Homo sapiens: one gene and its partner. The main gene of each other region encodes a partner of the protein of the gene in region 2 in a complex. Each region holds a gene or a part of one and is shown on either strand. Other genes may lie near its edges.

Region 1 (11,524 bases), on a different chromosome or scaffold from region 2:
CAGTCCAAAGAAAAAGCACTCAGTCTCCATGGGACTTTCTTTCTCTATTAACTGTAGGATCTTGGGCAACTCACTTAACCTCTCTGAATCTCCTTTCTCTCCATAAAATGGGGACCATGATGTGGACTACTAAAGAATTCTATAATCTCTTAGAATTTAATTAATTTGTGACTTTATAATCCCTTAGAATTTAATTATGTAAAATGCTCTATAAGGAGAGATATATGTTATGTATGCATGAAGATATATGCTTTATCAGGAGAGACATATGTTCACTATTATGGTTAGAATTATTAATATTAGTAGCATTCATACTAATACATTTTGAAACTTTGCATGCAGGGTTGTGTTTAGGTGCCCAGGAATAGAAACCCAGGTCAACAAACCAAATAAGTATAGGTATTTATTGAGCATGTATTAAGAACCCTGCACTGCAAGGATACAAGGTAAAAGACATACACCCAGTCTTCAGAAAGTTGAGCAGACAGTTACATGAAAATGAAAAGTTAACTAATATGAAAGCTAGGAGTCTGAATGCAGAGAAAGTTCAGTTTCACATCTCTGCTCCAATTTAGAAGCTAGAGGCTTTTGGTAAATTGCTAAATTTCACTAGGACTCATTTATCTGTAAAATAGAACTTGCAATAGCATCAGGCCCGGTGCGATGGCTCATGCCTGTAATCTCAGCATTTTAGGAGGCCAAGGCGGGTGGATCACTTGAGGTCAGGAGTTCGAGACCAGCCTGGCCAACATGGCAAAACCTCGTTTCTATTAAACATAACAACAACAAAAAAAAAACTAGCCGGGCATGGTGGCGGGCGCCTACAATCCCAGCTACTCAGGAGGCTGAGGCAGGAAAATCGCTTGAACCTGGGAGGCAGAGGTTGCAATGAGCCGAGATCACGTCACTGCACTCCAGTCTGTGCAACAGAGAGAGACCTTGCCTCAAAAAACAAAACAAAACAAAAAAAACACCAAAACCAATCATCGTAGGGATATTGCAAAGACTAAATGAGATTAAGCATACAAAGCATTTCATATCATTCTGTGCACAAAGTATTTATGAAATAGCAATTGCAAGTCAGACATGGTAGCTCATGCCTGTAATCCCAGCTACCTGGAAGGCTGAGGCAGGAAGATCACTCGAGCCCAGGAGTTTGAAACCAGCCTGGGCAACACAGGGAGCCCTTGTCCTCCTCCCCACACCTACCCACAAAAAAAATAGCAACTGCAGACTGGCTGAGATGATCCCAAAAAAAGTGCAGAGAGGGCCAACAGAATCTCCCTAGATGGTGAGGACCAGGCCGCACTCCAAGGGAGGGGTGGTATAAGAAGGACTCAGGTTTCTTAATTCAGAAATGGAAAGAGATTGAAATTGGAACCCTGTGCACTGTTGGTAGAAATATAAAATGGTGCATCTGCTGTGGAAAACAGTATGGAGGTTCATCAGAAAAATTAAAAATAGAACTACCACAGCATCCAACAATACCACTTCTGGGTATGTACCCAAAAGAATTGAAATCAGGCTCTGGAAAAGATACCTGCACTCCCATGTTCACTGCAGCACTATACACGTTAGCCAAAATGTGGAAATAACCTAAGTGTCCACTGTCAGATGAACAAAGAAAATGTGTTCTATGCATACAAAAGAACATTGTTTGGCTTTCGAAAAGAAGGAAATTCTGCAATATGCAAGCAAATGGATGAACCTAGGGCTAATTATGCTAAGTGAAATAGGCCGGTCACAGAAGGACAAATACCACACGATTCCACTTACATGAAGTACCTAGAATAGACAGATTCATAGATCAAATATCAGAATGGTGGTTGCCAGGGGTTAGAGAGAAGGGAAACTGGGGAGTTGCTACTCAACAGACATAAAGAACTTTCAGTTAAATGAGATGAATACATTCTAGACATCTGCTGTACAACATTGTACCTCATCAACAATATTGTATTGTGCACTTAAAGTTTTGAAAGGGTAGATCTCGTGTGAGATGTTCTCACCACAATAAAATAAAAATTTTTTAAAGAGAGGCCGGGCACAGTGGCTCATGCCTGTAATCCCTGCACTTTGGGAGGGTAAGGCAGACAGATCATTTGATGGCAGGAGTTCGACACCAGCCCGGCCAACATGGTAAAACCCCGTCTCTACAAAAAATACAAAAATTAGCTGGGTGTGATGGCGCATGCTTGTAATCCCAGCTACTCAGGAGGCTGAGGCAGGAGAATCACTTGAACCCAGGAGGTGGAGGTTGCAGTGAGCTGAGATCATGCCACCGCACTCCAGCCTGGGTAACAGAGTGAGACTCTGTCTCAAAAAAAAAAAAAAAAAAAAAGTTTTTAAAAGAGAGAGAGAATGATCCAGGTGCATTCAAGGTGACGGGTCATTCAAGGGAGTCCTGAAGTGGAAAAATGCTACCTGCCACCTGTCACTCAGGCAGCCTGAAGCTGGGAAGCTCCCACCTTCCCAAGGAGCGTGGGACCATGACCTAACTTGATGCTGAGGGGTGAGATTCCCTATTTCAATCTTTATTGCTAAACCAGCATTTGCAGCTGAACCACGATTTCAAGAAATGGGCCAAGGGCAGGTACACAGCTGAGGCCACTCTGAGCACACAGCCAGCCAGCGTGCAGACCCAGGCAGCTCCAGGGACTCCTGGTGCAAGACTGACTGTCAGCTTCCTCTGCACGGACACATTCTCGGCTCACAGAATTGTTTTGGAACAGAAAATACTTATTTTGGCTTGACTCAGAGCCATAGTCCTTGGCCATCTGCAGTGTCAGGACTTGGCAGCATCTGAGGTCACTGGGTCAGCTGTAGGTCCAGCAGCAATGAGGGAAGCAAAGGGACAACGCCAGGAGGGTGTTTGCGGGGCACTGGGAGGTACAGCTGCTGCTCCTGGGGGTGGCCCAGGGAACTGAGGAGGCAACAGGCTGCAGGAGTGACTCCTTCTGGAGTTCTCCACTAACTGTGACCTCAGGTCTCCATGGTACCCAAGAAGTGCCTGATTTTCTTTTTTTGTTTGTTTGTTTGTTTTTGAGACGGAGTCTTACTCTGTAGCCCAAGCTGTAGTGGCATGATCTTGGCTCACTGTAACCTCCACCTCCTGGGCTCAAGCGGTTCTTGTGCCTCAGCCTCCTGAGAAGCTGGGACTACAGGCGCGCGCCACTACGCTAATTTTTTGTATTTTAGTAGAGATGAGGTTTCACCATGTTGTCCAGGCTGGTCTCAAACTCCTGACCTCAAGTGATCTGCCTGCCTCAGCCTCCCAAAGTGCTGGGATTACAGGCATGAGCCACCGTGCCCGGCCAAGATTTTCTTTTCTTTTTTTTTTTTTTTGAGACAGTCTTGCTCTGTCGCCAAGCTGGAGTGCAGTGGCGGATCTTGGCTCATTGCAACCTCCGCCTCCCAGGTTCAAGCGATTCTCCTGCCTCAGCCTCCCAAGTAGCTGGGACTACAGGCGCACCCCACCAAACCCAGCTAATTTTTGTATTTTTAGTAGAGACGGGGTTTCACCAGGTTTGCCAGGATGGTCTTGATCTCTTGACCTCGTGATCCGCCCACCTTGGCCTCCCAAAGTGCTGGGATTACAGGCGTGAGCCACCACGCCAGGCCAAGATTTTCTAATATGAGGGCCCAAGACTCCTTTTTCCCACATTAGCTGCCGGATGAAAGGCTGCCTTCATTCAAAATGGTTTTTATTAGATGTAACAGCAGCATGTTATAAAAGCAGGGAGCCCATATATTGGAGAAGACATATAATCCCACTTTAAAAGTTAGAAACCCGAGTTTCTCTGATAGAAAGTTGGCAGATTTGATTCCTTGTCTTTGCATTTAAAAAAAAATCGAGTTATAAAGAGTTTGAAAATAACCTTCAGAGGAGGAATAATGAGAGTTATTTTAAAAACACAATGAGGGGAGTCAGATTTCTTTCTAGGAGGTGTGTCACCCTTCACAGAAAGAAGGGCTGGGTGGGAGGAGGGAACGTCACGTGGACCTCGGGAACATTTTGAGGGAGTTCGGCCCATTGGGATCCGATCCTTTTTCCTCAGACCTTTCCCCGTACAAATTCCTCTGAGGCGTCTCCTCAGTCTCCCCAGGAAACCACAGAACTCTAGCTCTATGGGCTGAACTGCGTCCCCCTACAAATTCGTACATTGAAGTCCTAACCCCAGTACCTCAGACTGTGACTGCTTTTGAAGATAAGGTCTTTAAAGAGGTGAAATGAGTCCAGGTGCACTGGCTCACACCTGTAATCCCAGCAATTTGGGAGGCTGAGATGGGCAGATCACTCAAGGTCAGGAGTTCGAGACCAGCCTGGCCAACATGGCAAACCTCATCTCTATTAAAAATATATTAAAAAAAAAAAAAATAGCCAGGAGTGGTGGCAGGCTACAATCCCAGCTACTCAGGAGCTGAGGCAGGAGAATCGCTTGAACCCGGGAGGCAGAGGTTGCACTGAGACGATATCAAGCCACTGCACGCCAGCCTGGTCAACAGAGTGAGACTCAGTCTCAAAAAAGTAAAAATAAGGCTGGGCACAATGGCTCATGCCTGTAATCCCAGCACTTTGGGAAACCAAGGCCGGTGGATCATGAGGTCAGGAGTTTGAGACCAGCCTGGCCAATAAGGTGAAACCCCATCTCTACTAAAAATACAAAAAAATTAGCCAGGCGTGGTGGGGGGCACCTGTAGTCCCAGCTACTCTAGAGGCTGAGGCAGAAGAATCGCTTGAACCCGGGCGGTGGAGGTTGTAGTGAGCCAAGATCTCGCCATTGCACTCCAGCCTGGGCAACAGAGTGAGACTCATTCTCAATAAAAATAAAAAAATAAAATAAAGCGGTGAAATGAGGTCATGGAGTGGACCCTAATCCCCTATGACCAGTGTCTTTATGAGAACAGATTAGGACACAGATAGACACAGAGGGAAGATGATGTGAGAACAGAGAGAAGACGGCCATCTGCGAGCCAAGGAGAGAAGCTTCAGGAGAAGCCAACCGTGCCACACTTTGATCTCAGACTTCCAGCCTCCAGAACTGTCAGCAAAGAAGTTTCTGTTGCTTAAGCCACTCAGTCTATGCATCTTTGTGACGACAGCCCTACAAACTCATACAGACTCTGTGTCCTATATTCAATCAGAAACATCCCTTCCCCTGCACAGAGGGGAGAGAATCTGAACTGTTTCCCAAGTTCTCCAGGGAGTGAGATGCCCTTGCTATTCTGCTGCAAACTTCAGCAGACCTTGCACTCTCCTCCTTGTGTCCTTGGGGGCATGCTCACCCTCAAAGGCCAACACTCTCACTCCCAAACAGACTCTGCTTCCCAGCTCCTCCCAAGACAAAGCATCAGCCCCGCTTCGTTCCCAGGCAACATGTCAGTGCTGCACAACCAGGCCACCGCGGGACCCTGTCTGACCCCGTGTCGGGGAGAAGGGGGTCAGGGTGTCAGCTGCACCTTTCCTCTCTCAGATGCCAATGTGCTGAGGCATGACAGTGGGCGTGCCAGGGAACCCCGACATCACAGAGGGATCAGAAATGAGGGCTTTGATGGCTCTGACATCCCACCCACCACGCCCACGCTGCTCCTCACATTAAGGAGCTGTCACTCACTGCGGAAGATCTCTGGGGCTGGAATTTTCCTTTAAGCTGGAGAAGGCACCCGGGGGAACAATAATAATCGGTACTTTTCTATACAAAGATGGGAAAAGTGACCCAGAACCGCAGAGTTGTTTTTCTAACAGAGGAGGATGTACTCCTGCTAATAAGCCTGGCCACACAGAGTCCAGCCACCCTCCCGCTGTCTCACCCGATGTCTCGCAGACGCTCAGACACTCATGAGGCACCATGCCCTAACCAGTGCTCGGTAGTCTTTCTCCAAAATCTGCTCTTCCCACCGATTCAAAAGCCTGGGAATCGTTCCAGGTGACCCCAGCCAAGATGTGGCCAACTTTTGTTGAATCTGCTTTTGTTTCCTTTTTTTTTTTTTTCAGGCTGGAGTACAGTGGCATGATCATAGCTCACTGTGGCCTCAAACTTCTGGGCATAAGTGATCCTCCCACTTTAGCATCCCATAGCTAAGACTACAGGCATGTGCCACCCTGCCCAGCTAATTTTTTTTTTTTTTTTTTTTGAGACAGAGTCTGGCTCTGTCGCCCAGGCTGGAGTGCAGTGGCACAATCTCGGCTCACTGCAACCTCTGCCTCCTGGGTTCAAGTGATTCTCACACCTCAGCCTCCCTAGTAGCTGGGGCTAGAGGTGCCTGCCAGCATGCCCAGCTCATTTGTGTGTGTGTGTGTGTATTTTTGGTAGAGACAGGGTTTCACCATGTTGCCCAGGCTAGTCTCGAACACCTGGGCTCAAGTGATCCACCCACCTTGGCCTCCCAAAGTGCTGGGATAAAGGCGTGAGCCACCACTCCTGGCCCCCAGCTAATTTTTAAATTTTCTTATAGAGATGGGTCTTGATATGTTGCTCAGTCTGACTGCTTTTGTTTTCAACACATCTCTTCTCTGCCCACTCAATCCTGCCTCCGTGGAACATCTTCTAACCCCCTTCCTGGACTATCAGGTTCTGCCTTTGAGCTGGCATCTGTCTCCAGCCTCCGGGGTGCTCCTTAGCCCAGGGCTCTCAACAGTGGCCCCATCAACGCTTGGAGCTGGATCATTCTTTGGGGGTTGGTGAGGGCGGCTGTCCTGTGTGTTGTAGGATGTTTAGCAGCATTCATGTCCTCCACCCACTAGATGCCAGGAGCACCCCCAGTTATGACAACCTAAAATGTATTTAGACATTGCCAAATGTCCCCAGAGGCTCTCATCCTGACTGCACATTCAAACCACCTGGAAAACTTTTCAAAAAGAGCAATGGTTAAGCCTGGCATGATGGCAGGCACCTGTAAATGAAATTACTCAGGAAGCCAAGGTGAGAGGATCCCTTGAGCCCAGGAGCTTGAGTCCAGCCTGGGCAATATAGTGAAAACCCATCTCTAAAAAAAGAAATTGTTAAAAAAGAAAAAAAAAGAAAGAAAGAAACAAAAAGAAAACCAGGCCAGGCTTTGTGGTTTACACCTGCAATCCCAGCACTTTAGGAGGCAGGGCAGGTGGGGCACCTGAGGTCAGGAGTTTGAGACCAGCCTGACCAACATGGTGAAACCCCGTCTCTACTAAAAACACAAAAATTAGCCAGGCATGGTAGCAGGTCCCAGTATCCCCAGCTACTTGGGAGGCTGAGGCAGGAGAATCACTTGAACCCGGGAGGCAGAGGTTACCGTTAGCCGAGATCTCGCCACTGTACTCCAGCCTGAGCAACAGAGACAGGCTCTGTCTCAAAAACAAACAAAAAAAAAAAAAAAAGAAAGGAAGGGAGAAAAACAGTGGCATAAAAAGACCAATGCTTAAGCCTCACTTCCAGGCCAAGTAAATCAGAAACTCAAAGTAGAGTGAGTTGATATTAATGTTTTTTAAAGTGCAGCCCAGGTTGAGAATTACTCATTCCCTCTCACCAGAATCATCTTTCTAGCATATAAACCAACTCATCTTATTCATCCCTGATTTTAAAACGTCAAACAGCTTCTCATTAAACACAGAAGCCATCAAACTCTGTAGCATGACCTAGGAAGCCCTCCAGTTCTGGGCTTTTCTTTTTGTTTGTTTGTTTTTGGTTTTTGGTTTTTGGGTTTTTTTTGAGACTGAGTCTTGCTCTGTCACCCAGGCTGGAGTGCGGTGGCATGATCTCAGCTCACTGCAGCCTCCGCCTCCTGGGTTCAAGCAATTCTCCTGCCTCAGCCTCCCAAGTAGCTAGGATTACAGGCGCATGCCAGCATGCCTGGCTAATTTGTGTATTTTTGGTTTCACCATGTTAGCCAGGCTGGTCTTGAACTCCTGACCTAGTGATCCGTCCACCTCAGCCTCCCAAAGTACTGGGATTACAGGCATGTGCCACTGCACCCAGCAGATCTGGGCCTTTCTTACCTACCAGTCTTCTCCATCAACGCCAAACTCACTTCCTGTACACTTGGGGCCAGCTCTCCCAACCCGCAGGCAATCTCCCAAACCACCATGCTACTTCACATGTCCCTGTTTTGTATTGCCTAAAATGTCACTCATTTCCTCAACCTCCTGGCCAAAAACTACTGACTTTTTATAATTCGACTCCATTGCAAGCCCCCTTGTAAAATCTGTCCTGATCCCCCCTGACCCCAGGTAGAACTGACCACTCCCTGCTTGGTGTCACATGTATCCTCCAACAATGTCTGCCACAGCCTATGGAACACTTCTTGTCTCCTTGTTTATACATCTGTCTTTCTCCACTAGACTCTAAGCTCCTTGGTGCTCCCAGCACCTGGCACAGCATCTAGCCCATAAGTACCCAATTATATGTCTGTATTGAATGAAAGAATGTTACAAGCAAGAGATACCAAACTCGGCCTGGATATCCTCAATATTTCTGCTTCTGCATTCCTTTCTCAGGCAAAAAGAGATGCCAGAAGCCGCACAGGAAAACAAAGCTGTCACCAGAAGGCTTCTCCAAGAAAGTCCAAGAAATTCGCCCATGGTGAATCCCAAGGGCGGTGGTGGTACTGGCTGGGATGGTGATCTGGTAATTGCAGAGGGGAATGGGCCATCCCCAGAACAAGAGTCCATGGGTGCTGGAACCACAGGAGGCCACCCACCTGTGTTCATCTGTCCACTGTGTGCCATCAGCTAATTCCCCAGCAAAGCCATGAACAGATGGGCCTTCTGCCTCTTTCTACCACATCTGAAACGAGCCCAGGCATCAGAGGTGGGAAGCAGCATGGCCGGCGGGCATCCCGACCCACAGCTGCATTGAGACTGAGATGGAGGCATGGGTGTGAGAACCTCGGGAATCGCACACGGTCCTTTCTGACCAGTATGGCTCTCCATGGCCCCATGACAGTTGTCATTTCTCAAGAGGTTGGAGCTGCAGGGGCACAGGAGGATCCTGAGTGAACTCTCTTAGTTCAGGGAGAAGGCATTCCACCCATTCCTCTGGCTCACACCAGTGGTCCTTTTTTTTTTTTTAGACAGAGTCTCTCTCTGTCACACAGGCTAGAGTGTAGTGTAGTGGCAAGAACTTGTGAACTCAGTTACTGCAACCTCCACCTCCCGGGTTCAAGCAATTCTCCTGCCTCAGCCTCCCAAGTAGCTGGGATTACAGGTGCTCACCACCACGCCCTGCTAATTTTTATATTTTTAATAGTCAGAGGGTTTTGCCATGTTGGCCAGGCTGGTCTCAAACTCCTGATCTCAGATGATCCACCTACCTTGGCCTCCCAAACTGCTGGGATTACAGGCATGAGCCACTGCAACTGGCCCACCAGTGATCTTCTTAATTTGCAAATCTGCCATATCACTTGCCCATTCCAATTTCTATAGTGGCTCCGTATGAGATAAAACCAAACCTTTAAAAGGTCTTGAAGGCCCATAGGCACCCACTACCTCTGCCTTTCCTTTCCAGCTTCCCACTCCCCTTGCACTTCAAAATCCATCCATTACAGAACATGGCCCCAAACCCACTAGCTTTCCCATGCCTCTGTGCGTAAACTGTTCCCTCTGCCTGAAACATCTTTCCCTTTCTGCCTGGAAACCCTATGTATCCTTCAGGTCTCAGCTCTGTGTCCCTAAGCACACTGAGCCAGGCTTTCCCACAGCCTCCACACTCTGCCCTACGTCATGGGAAAGCTCAGGGCATTGCACCACAACTTGTGACAGACAACGACCACTCCTGTATTTCTTCTTGGTTTCACCACCTAGTGCTGCGTGACTGGCAAGCCGCTTAGCCTCTCTGAGCCTCAGCTTTCTTCTCTGTAAAATGGTGGCCATAACCTCCAGCTAATGAAATAGATGAGATAATGCACATAATGCCCACCCCTCCACACCATCATGGACACCGTGTACTTCATCACATGCATGGAACGAGTGATGAGTGACAGTTGCACCCAGGTCCACATTTTTTTGTTCCAGGCCCTTCTCCAGAAAGCTGAACATCGAATGTAGCTGGTTCTTCATTAAGGATCGCCTGGCATGGGCTCTTGAGACCTGTTCTGCAGACCTTTATTCTGTCTGCTGCTCCAAGGAGCTCTGTGACATGACCAATACATACATAGATATAGAGGATACATAGACAGGGCCCTTGCCAGCACAAGGTCTAGGGAAAGAGCAATGCTGGAGGTGTGGCAAGGTCTGTAGTGCACAGAGAAGGGAGCTGTCCTGCCCAGGGGCATTAGGAGAACCAGCCTTCACAGCCGAGGGGTGACTGAGCTGGGCATGGGAAGAGAAGTGGAGCTTGGCAAGCGAGAGGGGGAGAAAGGACTTTCCCAGCAGACGGACCCTGAGGCATGAAAGGGCACCGGGTTCCTAAAAAGGAAGGAAGTGTTTGAGGCAGGAGCCCAGGGGTGCCTGTGGCTGCTTTGTTGTTTCCCAGAGGGCAGGTGTGGAAGGCAGGCAGGAGGCAAAGCCAGGAAGATGGTGGGAGCGGAATCCTGGGTAACCAGGCTGCTCAGGGGAAGGTTGGACTTTATGCTGGGAATGTGGGAAGCCAGTGGAGCGTTTCAGGTCAAGGAGGTCACCATTGATTTGGGGGAAAAAAACAGTGTGTGTAGGAAAGCTGTCATGGAGGAGGGGAGACCGGGGTGGAAGATGGGGAGCTGGGATGCAGGAGGGGGAGGTTAGGGTAGAGGAGAGGTAAGTTAGGATGGAGGAGGAGAAGGCTGGGGAGGAGGAGGAGGATGGGGTAGAGGAAGGGGAAGACAGGGTGGAGGAAGAGGACCTGGGGTGGAGGAGGGAAAGGTGGGGTGGAGGGGGGAGAGCTGGGGTGGAGGAGGGGAGCTGGAATGGAGGAGGGAGAGGTTAGGGTGGAGGAAGGGAGACTAAGGTGGAGGAGGGAGAGTTTGGGTGGAGGAGGGGATGCTGGGGTGGAGGAGGGGATGCTGGGGTGGAGGAGGGGTGGCTGGGGAGGAGGAGGGAAGCCTGGGGTGGAGGAGAGAAACTAGAGACCAAGACACTAGTCAGAAGACCAAGGTAAGGAGAGGAGAATCTACCAGAGAAGAGTCATGATGGAAAAGAATGCCAGAGATTCAATAAACAAACTGAATTTATCTCTTGACAATTACCCTCTGAGCCCCCAAGCCAGAGCTGTCCTGCCTGGGAGGAGACAGTCCTAGGATAAATCCTGGAAGATGATGTGTGGCTTTGAGATAGCCGACTTAGGCAGTTTCTTCTGCTTTTAGTAACTGGTATCTGCAATACAGGCTCTCAGGGTTCTTTCTGAGTGAGACAACATTCAGCCTGTCTGCTTTACAGATGATACCCACACCTCTGCTACCCGGAAGATGAGCACGAGCATCTTGAAACAGGTGGACCAAATGCGACCGTCTCGGGGTCCCCAGGACTGTCCAGGTTTTAGCATTGAAAGTCCTGGGCAAATCAGGACAGCGGTCACTGACTATACAAATTTGCTGAGCTCCAGGGGCTCAGGGAGAGCTCAGCTTGTCACAAAACATTCAA
Region 2 (12,211 bases):
TGCAGTGAAATTATAGAAAAAAATAAAGAATATTGATTTTAGACTGAGCATAGTAGCTTATGCCTGTAGTCCCAGTACTTTGGGAGGCCTAGGTGGGAGGACCACTTGAGGCCAGGAGTTTGAGACCAGCCTGGGCAACATAGCCCAACTCTGTCTCTACAAAAAATTAGTTGAGTGCCGTGATGCACACCTTTAGTCCCAGCTACTTGGGAGGGTGAGGTGGGAGGAGAGCTTGAGCCCAGGAGTTCAAGGCTGTGGTTTGCTGATTGCGCCCCTGCACTCCAGCCTGGGCGACACCACAAGATCCTATCTCTAAAGAAAAATAAAAATAAATAAATAAATTAACTGCCTTAAAAACATTAGCCAGGTGCGGTGGCACACACCTGTAGTTCCAGCTACTCAGGAGGCTGAAGTAGGAGGATAGTTTGAGCCCGAGATTTGGAGGCTGCAGTGAGCCACAATCACACCATTGCACTCCAGCCTGGGTGACAGAGGGAGACCCTGTCTCAAAAAAGAAAAAAGTGGGGGGGGGGGAAGACTATCAACTTCAGAAGTAGATGAAATATATATTTAGTAATCTAAGTATCTACATAAAGATACTATGTTTGACTCATTGGCAGGTATGAGTTCATGGCCCAGCGTTCTTTATTAAAATAACAGCTTTCATAGTACACGCTGTGGTTACGTCATTTTTCTTTCAGAGTATTATTACCTTTTAAAAGCTTCTTAAATCCCAAGTTAAAGCTGTTACATTCTAACCCAGTCTCAGAGCTGATTGGCTCAAAACCTCTGTGGGCCAGTAATGCCACATTACCCCGGAGGGGCGGGCAGCGCGGGGGTCAGGGAGCTGCCAAAGCCAGCCCTCCTACTGGCCAGCACGCACATTCCAGGGGATAAATAGGATTAAGTGCTCTAAAGAGGATTCCCAGCCCTCCTGCAAAGGAGGTTCAAACACTCTGGTCTAGTTCTGAACAAAAATAAGCCCCAGAGAAGGAGAAAGTGCCTGTTTAAACACCAGGTGGCCCTACCCCAAGCCTCTGCTCTTCCTCTTACCCCCATCTCCGGGTGGCTGGGGAGAGCCCTTTTCCGCAGGCAAGTGTGCGCACTGGATCCAAGTCCGTGAGAGTAGGTTCAACCCACCCTCTTTGGTTTCCTAAATAGGGTCAGCCCCTGAGCGGCAGTGGGAGGTCATGACCTCAAATCTCTTCTAGCTGCTCTTGGGGACGAATGGATAAACTCTGCTAGGAAGGGCTGTAGCGCGTCTTAGAGAAAGCCCTTTGTATGAACTGCTCTCGGGACACTCTCCTAAATTTAGGCCCTGAAAGATTAAGGTAATAAAAGCTGCTGACATTTGATTGCAATTTTTCTTGTCCGGGAAACAGACCAACCACATAGAACCAAACAGCGTCCCTCTCCAAACTTCACTCCACCCCACCCACCTTTTCAAACTGTCCCACGCAGAAAGGGGGCGACGCTGGCAGGGGTGGGCACCGAACTCGGACTCCCTGTAAAGACGCCCCAACAGCACATGTGTTAACTCATTAACTCGGAGGGATCTAGGGTCACTGTGACGGTTTTCTATTAATAGGGAATAAAGCTCCTGCAGACGTTAGCGGTAATGCCCTGACGGCCGGCGCAAAGTTAACTCCTCCCGGGCCAGCAAGAGGAAACCGTGTCCTGCCCAGGCAGATGTGCACTGGAAACGCGCGTGTACCCATGCACACACGGGGTTTTAGGACCACTCCCCTTGCACAGGCCAGACCCCACACCCATCCCGAGTCTTTTCTCAGGGGAGGGAGCGGCAGCAGCAGGCGGCCGTCGGGTGTCCGTCAGCTCAGCTTCGCCACGCACACGGCTAGGGCCACAGCCGCCAGCAGCACGGCGCCGAAAAGGATGGCGGCCAGGGCCTTCCTGGGGTCGCAACCCCCCCCGCGCTCCTGCAAGGACACGACCGAGGAGGGGCCGGCGCTGACCGTGGACAGGAGCTCGGCGCCCGCCGCCTGCCGGGCTTGCACGGTCCAGCGGGGCACGTTGACCTTCATCTCCATGTTGTCGATCATCTCGCCCACCTGAAGGACCTCGCGCTCCAGCTCCCGCAGGTCCGCGACGTCGAAGTCGCCCTCCGCCTCGAGCCGCAGGCTGCGGGTGCTCAGCGCGCGCGCCGCCACGCCGGAGGAGGCGCCAGCCACACCTGTGCGCACCAGCGGCCGCCGCGGCGCGTGCAGCGGGAACGCGGCGCCCAGCTCCAGCGCGCGTCGCATGTCCGCTTCCAGCAGGTCCAGGCAGCCCGAGAAGGCCACCCAGAGCCGCTCGAACTCGGCGCGCTCGTCGGCGGCCAGGCCCCGGTCGCGCAGCACAGCAGTCAGCCGGGCGCAGGTGGACACCGCCAGCTCCTGCGCCTTCTGGCGCGTCTTTTGCAGCTCCTGCCGCAGGTTCTGCGAGTCCGCCGAGCCACCGACGGTCAGCACCAGGTGGTGGTAGCACGCAGTCGTCTTGTTGAGCCCGTCCAGCAGCGCCTTGCACTCCTCCCTCGCCATCGCGGTGGGCTCCGGCTGGGCCCGGCCGCCCGCGCCCGTTAGCCTCCCCCTCAGCGCGGCAGGATGTGGCTAACCCCCATCCCGGCCTTGGGCCGCGCGGCACGAACGCTCTTCATGGTCCGTGACTCGCTCGGCGCTACCGCCAACGTCCACGGAGCCCGCCCGGGACCCTCGACGTGCGCCTCTGCGGACGGGGCGCGCAGAGGGAGCCCCGTTAGCGGTCCCCCGCTCCCTCGTCCATCCTCCCCAGGCGCACTCCGAGTCACACGTCGTGTCTCTGCACCGCCCTGGCCTCCACGGTGGCTCCCTGCGAAGCTGAGGGTGCGGTCCCCATCCTCCGTGGGTGCCAACTCCGGGGCAAGCAGGCTGCAGAGCCGCGCGCTCCGCCTTAGGCGCTGCCAAGGGCGGCCGGGTAGGGTTTCCTAGGACCCGCCCACCCCGCTCGTCCCGGCCGGAGCTGCCACCCCCTGGATCAGTGGTAGGCGGGGCTCCACGCGGGGAGGTCACGTGTGGGTGGCCCATCCCTCCCTCCCCTTCGCCCCATCCGAGTTCTGGAATGTTAGCGCTCGGGAGATCCAACCCGTTCTATTTTACGGATGGGGAAACTGAGGCCCAGGTAAAAAGCGGGCCAGGCTCCCGCGGAGTTTTTGCCTGTGATGGGACTAGAACCCAGCTATACTGACTCCCGGACCCTGTCGGCGACAGGACGTCGGGTGCCCCGCAGGACTGGGCACCTCCGTGCCCCAAAGCGAGCAGTGACTGGCAATCCGAGGGGCTGGGCGCCGCCGGGGTCAGGTGTCCCTGCCGCGTTGCGCTCACGTTGGTCGGTGCTTCCAAGCGCTAACCCCACCTCTAGTGTCAGCCCGGCTCCCAGCCCCGCCCCTCACGTTCTGGGCACGCGCAGTTGCGGGCGTGGGGCGGGGCCAGCTGGAGTAGGAAGCGTAGGGAGCCGCCTGAGCCCCGCCCCCGGCTGGGCTGGACTCCATGATTGCTCTGCGTACACGTCACTCTGGGAAACGACGGTTTCTCATTGGGTCAGCTGTGGCGCGGCTCCGCCCCACGGCGGAGTAAGGGGTGGGCTATAGGGCCAGATCGCCGCGCGAGGGTGGTGGGCATCGAGGTCCCAGCAGCGGACGAGGGAGGTGCCGCCGTCGCCCAGGATGGGCTGGGAATGAAGCGATGTAGCCTTTTAAGTAAGTGTCCTCGCGCTGGCCTCCTCCTGCGCCTCCCCTCCCGCGGGATGGCTGCGCCTCGGGGCGCGGCGGCCGGGCGGGGCCCGGAGAGTGAGGGGGGAGGGGCTCCCTGCTCTCCGGAGTCCGCTCCCGGGTCCGCCAGGTGGCCCCGCGCCGCCCCAGCCCCCGCGTCCCCAGGTGGGTGCCCGGTGCGCAGCCGGCGCGCCCTGCCCACTCCGCCCCTCGGGTCTGGAGGAGGGGAGCGGTCGGCGCGGAGAATGCACCCTCCGAGCCTCGCTGCGTCGACACCGGCGGGTGTGGCCGGGGTGCCGGGTCCGGCGGTTCGGATCTGGCGGGGCGCGGGGCGGTCGCCGCGCGGTTTCCCGGAGGCCTAGGGTCTGCTGGAGGGGAGCGGCGGGTGGGGGTCCGAGCCGCGCGCGCAGCGGTTGTGGTTTCCGGGGGGTGATGAGGGCGCGGAGCGGGGAATCCCTGGCTGCCGGCCTCTCGCAGGGCGGGGGGGTCTCTGCATTCCCACAGGTAAAGATTGTTAAAGGAAAACTCTTAAGCACCGAGAGATGTTCCGGATTCTGAGTCTGTTCCGTCTTGTGGTTGAAAATGGACTGCCCAGGAGCACACGAGCCACGCGGTGCCCCCTTGGCTGCCCCACGAGGTGCAGGGGACGTGGGCACTCGCGGCCTGTGCTGGGCGAGGGAGCAAGGGACGGGTCTTCGCTGAGGATTTAGAGCATGCAGGGAACGAGGGCTGCTGGCAGTGCTGGAGGGACTGTGAGGCTGCAGAGAGCTCAGATTTTACAAGTTGATGGGTTTCATGGATAGAGGCCCCTATTTTGATTAAAAAATGCACTCTTCCCACTGGCCGAAGAGTAGAGCAGTGGATATTTTTTTTCTTTTCTTTCTTTTCGTTTTTTTCTTTTTGAGACAGGGTCTGGCTCTGTTGGCTAGTCTGGAGTGCAGTGATGCCATCATAGCTCATTGCAGCCTCAAACTCCTGGACTCAAGCAATCCTTTCACCTCAGCCTCTGTAGTAGCTGGGACTACAGGCGCATGCCACTATGCACGGCTAATTTTTAATTTTTTTTTTTTTTTTTTGTAGAGATGGAGTCTAGCAGGTTGCCTAGGCTGGTCTTGAACTCCTGGACTCAAGCCATGCTCTCGTCTTGGCCTCCCAAGGTGTTGGGATTACAGGCACTAGCCACCACGTTTTGCTGAGCAGTAGCTGTTACGTTTCGAGATCAGCCTGGCATGAGGACTGGTGTTGAGGTGGCCTAAGGGTCCGGTGTACTGAGCCCCGGGGCCTGCTGTCACCCAGGGGTCCGTCCTTTAACTGGGTGAGCAGTAGGCTGGGTGTTTGCTGCCAGGGCTTGGGTACTCCTGGCCTTGACCATTGTGTGGAAGGGGGGTTCTCAGCCACCCACACGCTACATAGGGTCGTTCCCAGGGGGATAGTAGTTTTCAGGACAAAATGGGTGGAAAGAGGGAAAATACTCTTTCCCTTCGGGGGAAGCTTTGGAGACAGCAGAGGGTGAGGAAGCTGCAAAGGTGGCCAGAGGCCAGATGTGCCAGGTCCTGAGCACCTAGCAGAGAAGTTGAGGGCTCACCTGGTGGGGAGTGCAGGGGAATCCTTTGAGGAATCCTGCAGAGCTCGGCGCTGGAAAGATCGCTTTGTTGTGTTGCTGGTGGACAGGCGTGAGTGAAATCCAGGGGGCAGATCCAGGAGGCACAGCCCGTAGGCCTTGGAAGGAGGGGATGCAGGATGGGAGCAGGAGCAGAGACTTCTTCTGACCAGCCATAGGGACAGGAATGCACCTGGGGATCTGACATTGGATAGACTTACATTCCCAAGTTACACCCAGTCTTGCCTGGTGACCTGAAATAATCTTGGCCGGCAGCTTCCCTGGGAGGGCAGGCAGAGGTGTCTGCAGAGGGCCGGGGGTTAGGGTCTCCGTTGTGCCTCTTTGTGACTGTTAGACTGTGTCTCCCTCACCAAGACAGCTGCTGGGTCTTTGTTAGTGATGTTTCTGTGTCCCAGTTAAGGTTTCTGTGGCATCTGCCCTGCTGGGGCTCTTCCTGTCTGTCATTTGCCAGCATTAGGTTGGTGTCCAATGACTCCATCCTCTCATAGAGGAGTGGAGGAATGTGACCATGTCATGATAGGTACCAATCCTAGAAAGGATTCAGCCCAGAAGGATCCAGACTTGATTTGTCCTGAGGTTGATTCTCCATCTGAGGAACACTGAGAAGCGGCCCTAGAGCTCCTGCCCATCTGCCCAAGATACTGGTGGAGGGTGCATGGTGGTTCTTCTCCCTGTGGTCCGGGAACAGGGTGATGCGGTGGCATTCGGAGGGGCTGTTGTGCTCCTCCAAACTTTCCCGCTCCCTGCATGGTCCCGCCCTGGTTCCAGTCCTGGCTTCTCTCTAGCCCTGCCCATTCCAGCTATCACTGTGTTGGGCTGGCACTGAGCATCCTGATTGTTTTGGGCTTTTTGCCTTTGTGCTTGCTTGGCTATGACCTGGGGTTAGCCCCTCACCTACCCTGGATATGGACAGTGGAGTTCCAGCTCTTGTGAGAGATGACCTCTCCCTGGGAGCTGGGGCTTCCTCTTAATGCCCCACTATCGTTTTGTTCAAGTGGGTGAGCAGTTACTCCATCTCTGCAGGGAACCAGGCGCAGGGCTGGGTGCTTTAATGAGAAGCTTTGAGAAGAATATGGACAGGATCTCTAAATGTTATAGGTCAGGAGGACACAAGTGACTGTAACAGCATACATACATCACCACATTGCTTCCATTGGTGTGAAAAATAGATGAATAGAAAGTTTTCGTTTTTCGCCTTTTCCTTCTGAATCATAAATTAGACCAAATGGAGAATACTGCTTATCTGTTGGGAAGCGTTCCTGGTCAGAGTGTTTGGTCAGAGCCCCGGAAGGGCGGGAACGGCCATCGCAGTGAGATTTCAGCAGGGAGTGCATCTCTAAGGAGGCTGAATTCCCCCATGCTGAATTCTGCTGAGCTGGGCTGCACGCTGTCACCAGACGGTTCTTGACCACCCAGACTTATCTGGGCTAGCAGGACGGTTGAAGACCACAAAACCACGAGTGTGCACGCTGCTCCCTGAAATACTAGTTTGAGGCCTCACATGGCTCTCCTGTTCATAGAATAACTGCAGATAACTCACATTTAGAGGTATTTGGTATCTCCAGCTAACTCAACTGGATTTTCTGTACATTTTCCCATCATTTGAGCCCAGGCAGGGATGGAATTTTTTAAAAGAAGTTTTATAAGAAGATTCACTTATCTTTCCAGTTTTACAAGAAAAAGTCCATTTTCTTTGCATGTTATTTTAAAATAGCAAACTAATTCTTTTGTTTGTTTTGTTTTTGAGATAGGTCTCACTCTGTTGCCCAGGCTGGAGTGCAGTGGCCCGATCTCGGCTCACTGCAACCTCCACCTCCCAGGTTCAAGAGATTCTCGTGCCTCAGCCTCCCAAGTAGCTGGGATTATAGGTGTGGGCCACCACAACCAGCTAATTGTATTTTTAGTAGAGACGGGGTTTTACCATGTTGGCCAGGCTGGTCTGAAACTCCTGACCTCCAGTGATCCACCCGCTTTGGCCTCCCAAAATGCTGGGATTACAGGTGTGAGCCACTGTGCCCAGCCAGCAAACTAATTCTTGCAGGTAAACTTGACAGGGTATAAAACTGTTTTTTTAAGCATTTACCCTTATGTAAGAATTCAACTCTGGCATTAAGCACCAGATCATATGAGATTATTACTTTTTTTTTTTGGAGACAGGGTCTTCCTCTGTCGCCTAGGCTAGAGTGCAGTGGTGCAGTCATAACTCATTGCAGCCTTGACCTCTTGGGCTCAAGTGATCCTCTGGCCTCAGCCTCCCCTGGCTGGGTGTGTGCCACCATACCCATAGATAATTTTTTGATTTTCCTGTAGAGACAGGGTCTCACTTTGTTGCTCAGGCTGGTCTTGAACTCCTGGGCTCAATCATCTGTCAGCCTCAGCCTCCCAAAGTGCTGAGATTACAGGTGTGAGCCACTGCACCTGGCATATTACAGATTTTTTTTTGTCATTTTTTGAAATGGAGTCTCACTCCGTTACACAGACTGGAGTGCAATGGTGTGATCTTGGCTCACTGCAACCTCCACTTCCCAGGTTCAAGTGATTCTTCTGCCTCAGCCTCCCTAGTGGCTGGGATTATAGGTGCCCATGCCTGGCTAATTTTTGTATTTTTAGTAGAGACAGGGTTTCACCATGTTGGCCAGGCTGGTCTTGAACTCCATCTCAAGTGATCAGCCCGCCTCGGCCTTCCAAAGTGCTGGGATTACAGGTGCTAGCCACTGTGCCTGGCCCTTTTTTAAATTTTAATTTACATTTTTTATTTTTTATTGAGACAGAGTCCCCCTCTGTTGCCCAGGCTGGAGTGCAGTGTCATGATCTTGGCTCACTGCAACCTCCGCCTCCTGGGTTGAAGTGATTCTTATGCTTCAGCTTCCTGAGTACCTGGGATTACAGGGGTTTGCCACCATGCCCGGCTAATTTTTGTATTTTTAGTAGAGACAGGGTTTTGCCATGTTGGCCAGGCTGGTCTCAAACTCCTGACCTCAGGTGATCCGCCCGCCTCGGCCTCCCAAGCCACTGCACCCTGCATGTTACGTATTTTTAACACTAGGACAGAAAGGTTGAGAACAGTGTCGGACAGAGGTCCTTTTTCTTCTTTTTTTTTCATGTGACAGCACGGATGAAAGGACAGAGCTCTTTGAATCCCTACTCCTGGACAGAGGATTCAGTCTTTAGTGACCAAGAAGACTGAGGTCCAAGATAAAGCAGATGACTTGGGGCTGGATAACAGCAGGCCCTGTCCGCACAGCAGTGCTTGTTAAGGGCGTGGTGTGTTTACACAGTTCTTGCATGTGACCTGCATGTTTTGATGTGGCACTCAGTGACCTTCCTGTCTCTTGCTGTTCTGCCCCTTTCTGGCCTCTGCTTGGAGTCTTACTACTTTCCCATCCTCTAGTTCATCCCCTTCCCTGCCGTTTTTTTCATTTTCTTTCTTTTTTTTTTTTTTGTGACGGGATCTCAGCCTGTCACTCAGGCTGGAGTGCAGTGGCGCCATCTCGGCTCGCTGCAACCTCCACTTCTTAGGTTCAAGCAATTCTTCTGCCTCAGCCTCCAAGTAGCTGGGACTACAGGTGCCCATCACCACGCCCAGCTAATTTTTGTATTTTTAGCAGAGACGGGGTTTCACCATTTTGGCCAGGGTGGTCTTGAACTCCTGACTTCAGGTGATCCACTGCCTTGGCCTCCCAAAGTGTTCAGATTATAGGTGTGAGCCACCACGCCCGACCACTGCTGTTTTCTTCTGTCTCTGGTCCTTACCTCCCAGCTCTGTTTTTAGTTCGTCCATGGAAGCCTGTCCTTGTTGCCTCATCTTGCGGGGTGGAAGTATTGGTGTTCCTCCAGCATCTTTTCTGAAGCAGAAGGAGCGCCTTTTCCCAGCTTGAGTCTGACCATATTGCATCCTGTTTCTCACATGGCTTTCATCCAGAGCATCTTTACTTTTGCAATGTGCCACATAGAACCAACTATGTCAGGAACTAGAAAGAGTTTTGTGTTCTTGTGACTCTGTCCCAGCAAAATTGCATTATCTCATTGTGGTGGAGACTCATAAAAGGATTATCTGGGCTCCAGTAATAAGTGAATTTAATGATTCAAATAGCTGAGTTATTGCAGAGGCACCCCTGGGGCCCAGGCAGGGATTATATGCGACCATTTTTATGTTAGTCTCTTCTCCCTAGGAGGACTGGCGGAGAGCTCACAGGCCTTTTTCAAGCAGAACCCAGGGCACCTGCAGCCAAGACAGTTCTGGCTGGACCTGGGGAATTAGTTGAGGGGCCTGTGTGGCTGTCTGTCTTGTGGACTTTTCTTCTGTTGAAATAAAATATGACTCTTAGGCTGGGCATGGTTGCTCACGCTGTAATCCCAGCGCTGTGAGAGGCTGAGGCGGGAGGATTACTTGAGGCCAGGAGTATGAGACCAGCCTGGGCCACATAGCGAGACACCATCTCTACTAAATGAATGAATGAATGAATGGCTCTTATTTATCCTTGAGTCAGCCAGCTGCATCTCAGTTTCTTCATCTGTGACACAGGCTAGTGATACCTACTTGCCTAGAGTTATTGTGAGCATTAAGATAGGATGAGTGCTGGGTGCAGTGGCTCACACTTATAATCCCAGCACTTAGGGGGAGCTGAGGCAGGAGGATCACTTGGGCAATGTAGCGAGACCCCATCTGTACTGAAAATTAAAAAATTAGCTGGGCACGGTGGCTCACGCCTGTAATCTCAGCACCCTGGAGTCCGAGACAGGAGGATTGCTTAAGTAACTTAGTGAGACCCCATCTCTACAAAGAATAAAAAAAAAATTAGCTAGGCATGGTGGCTCATGCCTGTAGTCCCAACTACTTGGGAGGCTGAGGCAGGAGGATCACCTCAGCCCAGGAGGTCAAGGCTGTAGTGAGCTGTGATTGTACCAGTGTACTCCAGTGTGAGTGATAGAGCAAGACCCGTCTCAAAAAAAAAAAAAAAAGATGAAGATAAGACTGGGCACAGTGGCTTATGCCTTGTAACCCCAGCACATTGGGAGGCCAGGGCAGGAGGCTCACTTGAGGTCAGGAGTTTGAGACCAGCCTGGGCAACATAGTGAGACACTGTTTCTACCAAAAACAAAACAAAACAAAAAATTTAGGCTTGGCCAGGTGGCTCATACCCGTAATTGTGGCACTTTAGGAGGCTAAGGTGGGAGGATTGCTTGAGGCCAGGAGTTTGAGGGTGCAGTGAGCTATGATTGTGTCACTGTACTCCAGCCTGGTCAGTAGAGTGAGACCCCAACTCATAAATAAATGAAGGTAAGTAAGTAAAGATGAGGATGTATAGAAGTTATTGCAGTGCCTGGTACAAGGACTCTCCCAAATGGTGGCTATTTTTACCATTAGTTCCAAGGAATAGAATTCATCATGCAGTTATGTATGCATAGTGTTTTCCCAAGGAAGCATTCTGGATCCCTGTTACATAGTGAGAGAGTAGCTCCTATTTCATATTTCATTCATTTAATTGTATCAAGGATAAATTCACTTTTACGCTTTTTAAATAGTTGCTGATTTTCTCATTTTAATGAAGAGAGAAGGCCCCAGGCTCAAGCTTAGCATCTAATGACTTTTTTTTTTTTTTTTGAGACGGAGTTTCACTCTTGTCGCCCAGGCTGGAGTGCAATGGCATGATCTCGGCTTACTGCAACCTCCATCTCCTGGATTCAAGCGATTCTCCTGCTTCAGCCTCCTGAGTAGCTGAGATTACAAGTGTGTGCCACCACGCCCGGCTAATTTTTGTATTTTTAATAGAGATGGGGTTTCACCACGTTGGCCAGGCTGGATCCGCCCACCTCGGCCTCCGAAAGTGCTGGGATTATGAGGTTTTAAATAACAGTAATTACCTTTATAATTTTTAACTTTAAGATGATCTTCTCTTCGTTGGAAGTGATACCATTTTTCTATTTAAAGTAGTAATAAGATTTCTTTTTAAAATAAATTTTAGGCCAAGGATGGTGGCATATGCCTGTTGAGCCAGGAGTTCAAGACCACCCTGGGCAACACAGCGAGACTCCATTTCTACAAAAGTAAACAAAAATAAAACAGAAAGGAAAATACATTTTTATAAAGACAATAAGTTATTGAAGGAAAATGTCAAACACTAGCAAGAGAGCCATTATGTGTAATTGTTGGGCAAAATTGTGCTCACATTGTGGGCAGGTTGTTCACTGCCCAGCAGCAGGGGCCGTGCAGCATGTTACCTAGGAGCTGCTCACTAGCCTAGTGCCCTTGCACAGAGCTGCGCCCCCTGGGAAGTCGGGTGCCTGTTTCTAATTCTCACAAAGGTCCCATGTGAGCTTGCAGTAACTGGTGCTATGTTGATATGCAGTACTGCATGTCACAGATAGTGAAGGTGGCATGGAAATGACCCTCATAAGAGTCCTGCAGACAGGTATTAGCATTCTCTGTGGTGCAGGCCCAGATGGAGGCTCAGAGAGGTGGGATGACGTGGTTAGAAATCTGATCTCCTGGCTGGGCATGGTGGCTCACGCCTGTAATCCCAGCACTTTGGGAGGCCGAGGTGGGCGGATCACTTGAGGTCAGGAGTTTGAGACCAGCGTGGCCATCATGATGAAACCCCGTCTCTACTAAAAATAAAAAAATTAGCCGGGAGTGGTAGTGCACACCTGTAATCCCAGCTACGAGGGAGGCTGAGGCAGCAGGAGAATTACTTGATCACAGGGGTGGAGGTTGCAGTGAGCCGAGATTGCACCACTGCACTCCAGCCTGGGCAACAGAGTGAGACTCTGTCTCAAAAAAAAAAAAAAAAAAAAATAGAAATCTGATTTCCTTTTCTGTGCCCATTTTGTAGGCACCCCCTCTGAGA

What was found.
Region 1: RGS9BP (region 2) and RGS9 share a complex: the UniProt entries of both Homo sapiens proteins name them as parts of the RGS9-1-Gbeta5 complex.

What each region holds. Positions count from the first base shown.
Region 1 is NC_000017.11:65,138,402-65,149,925, reverse strand, and holds part of RGS9 (regulator of G-protein signaling 9), read right to left. Parts: intron 1-11,524. UniProt on the Homo sapiens protein: Inhibits signal transduction by increasing the GTPase activity of G protein alpha subunits thereby driving them into their inactive GDP-bound form. Binds to GNAT1. Involved in phototransduction; key element in the recovery phase of visual transduction.
Region 2 is NC_000019.10:32,666,590-32,678,800, reverse strand, and holds RGS9BP (regulator of G-protein signaling 9-binding protein), read right to left. Parts: upstream 2,954-12,211; 5' UTR 2,538-2,953; coding exon 1,830-2,537; 3' UTR 501-1,829; downstream 1-500. UniProt on the Homo sapiens protein: Regulator of G protein-coupled receptor (GPCR) signaling in phototransduction. Participates in the recovery phase of visual transduction via its interaction with RGS9-1 isoform.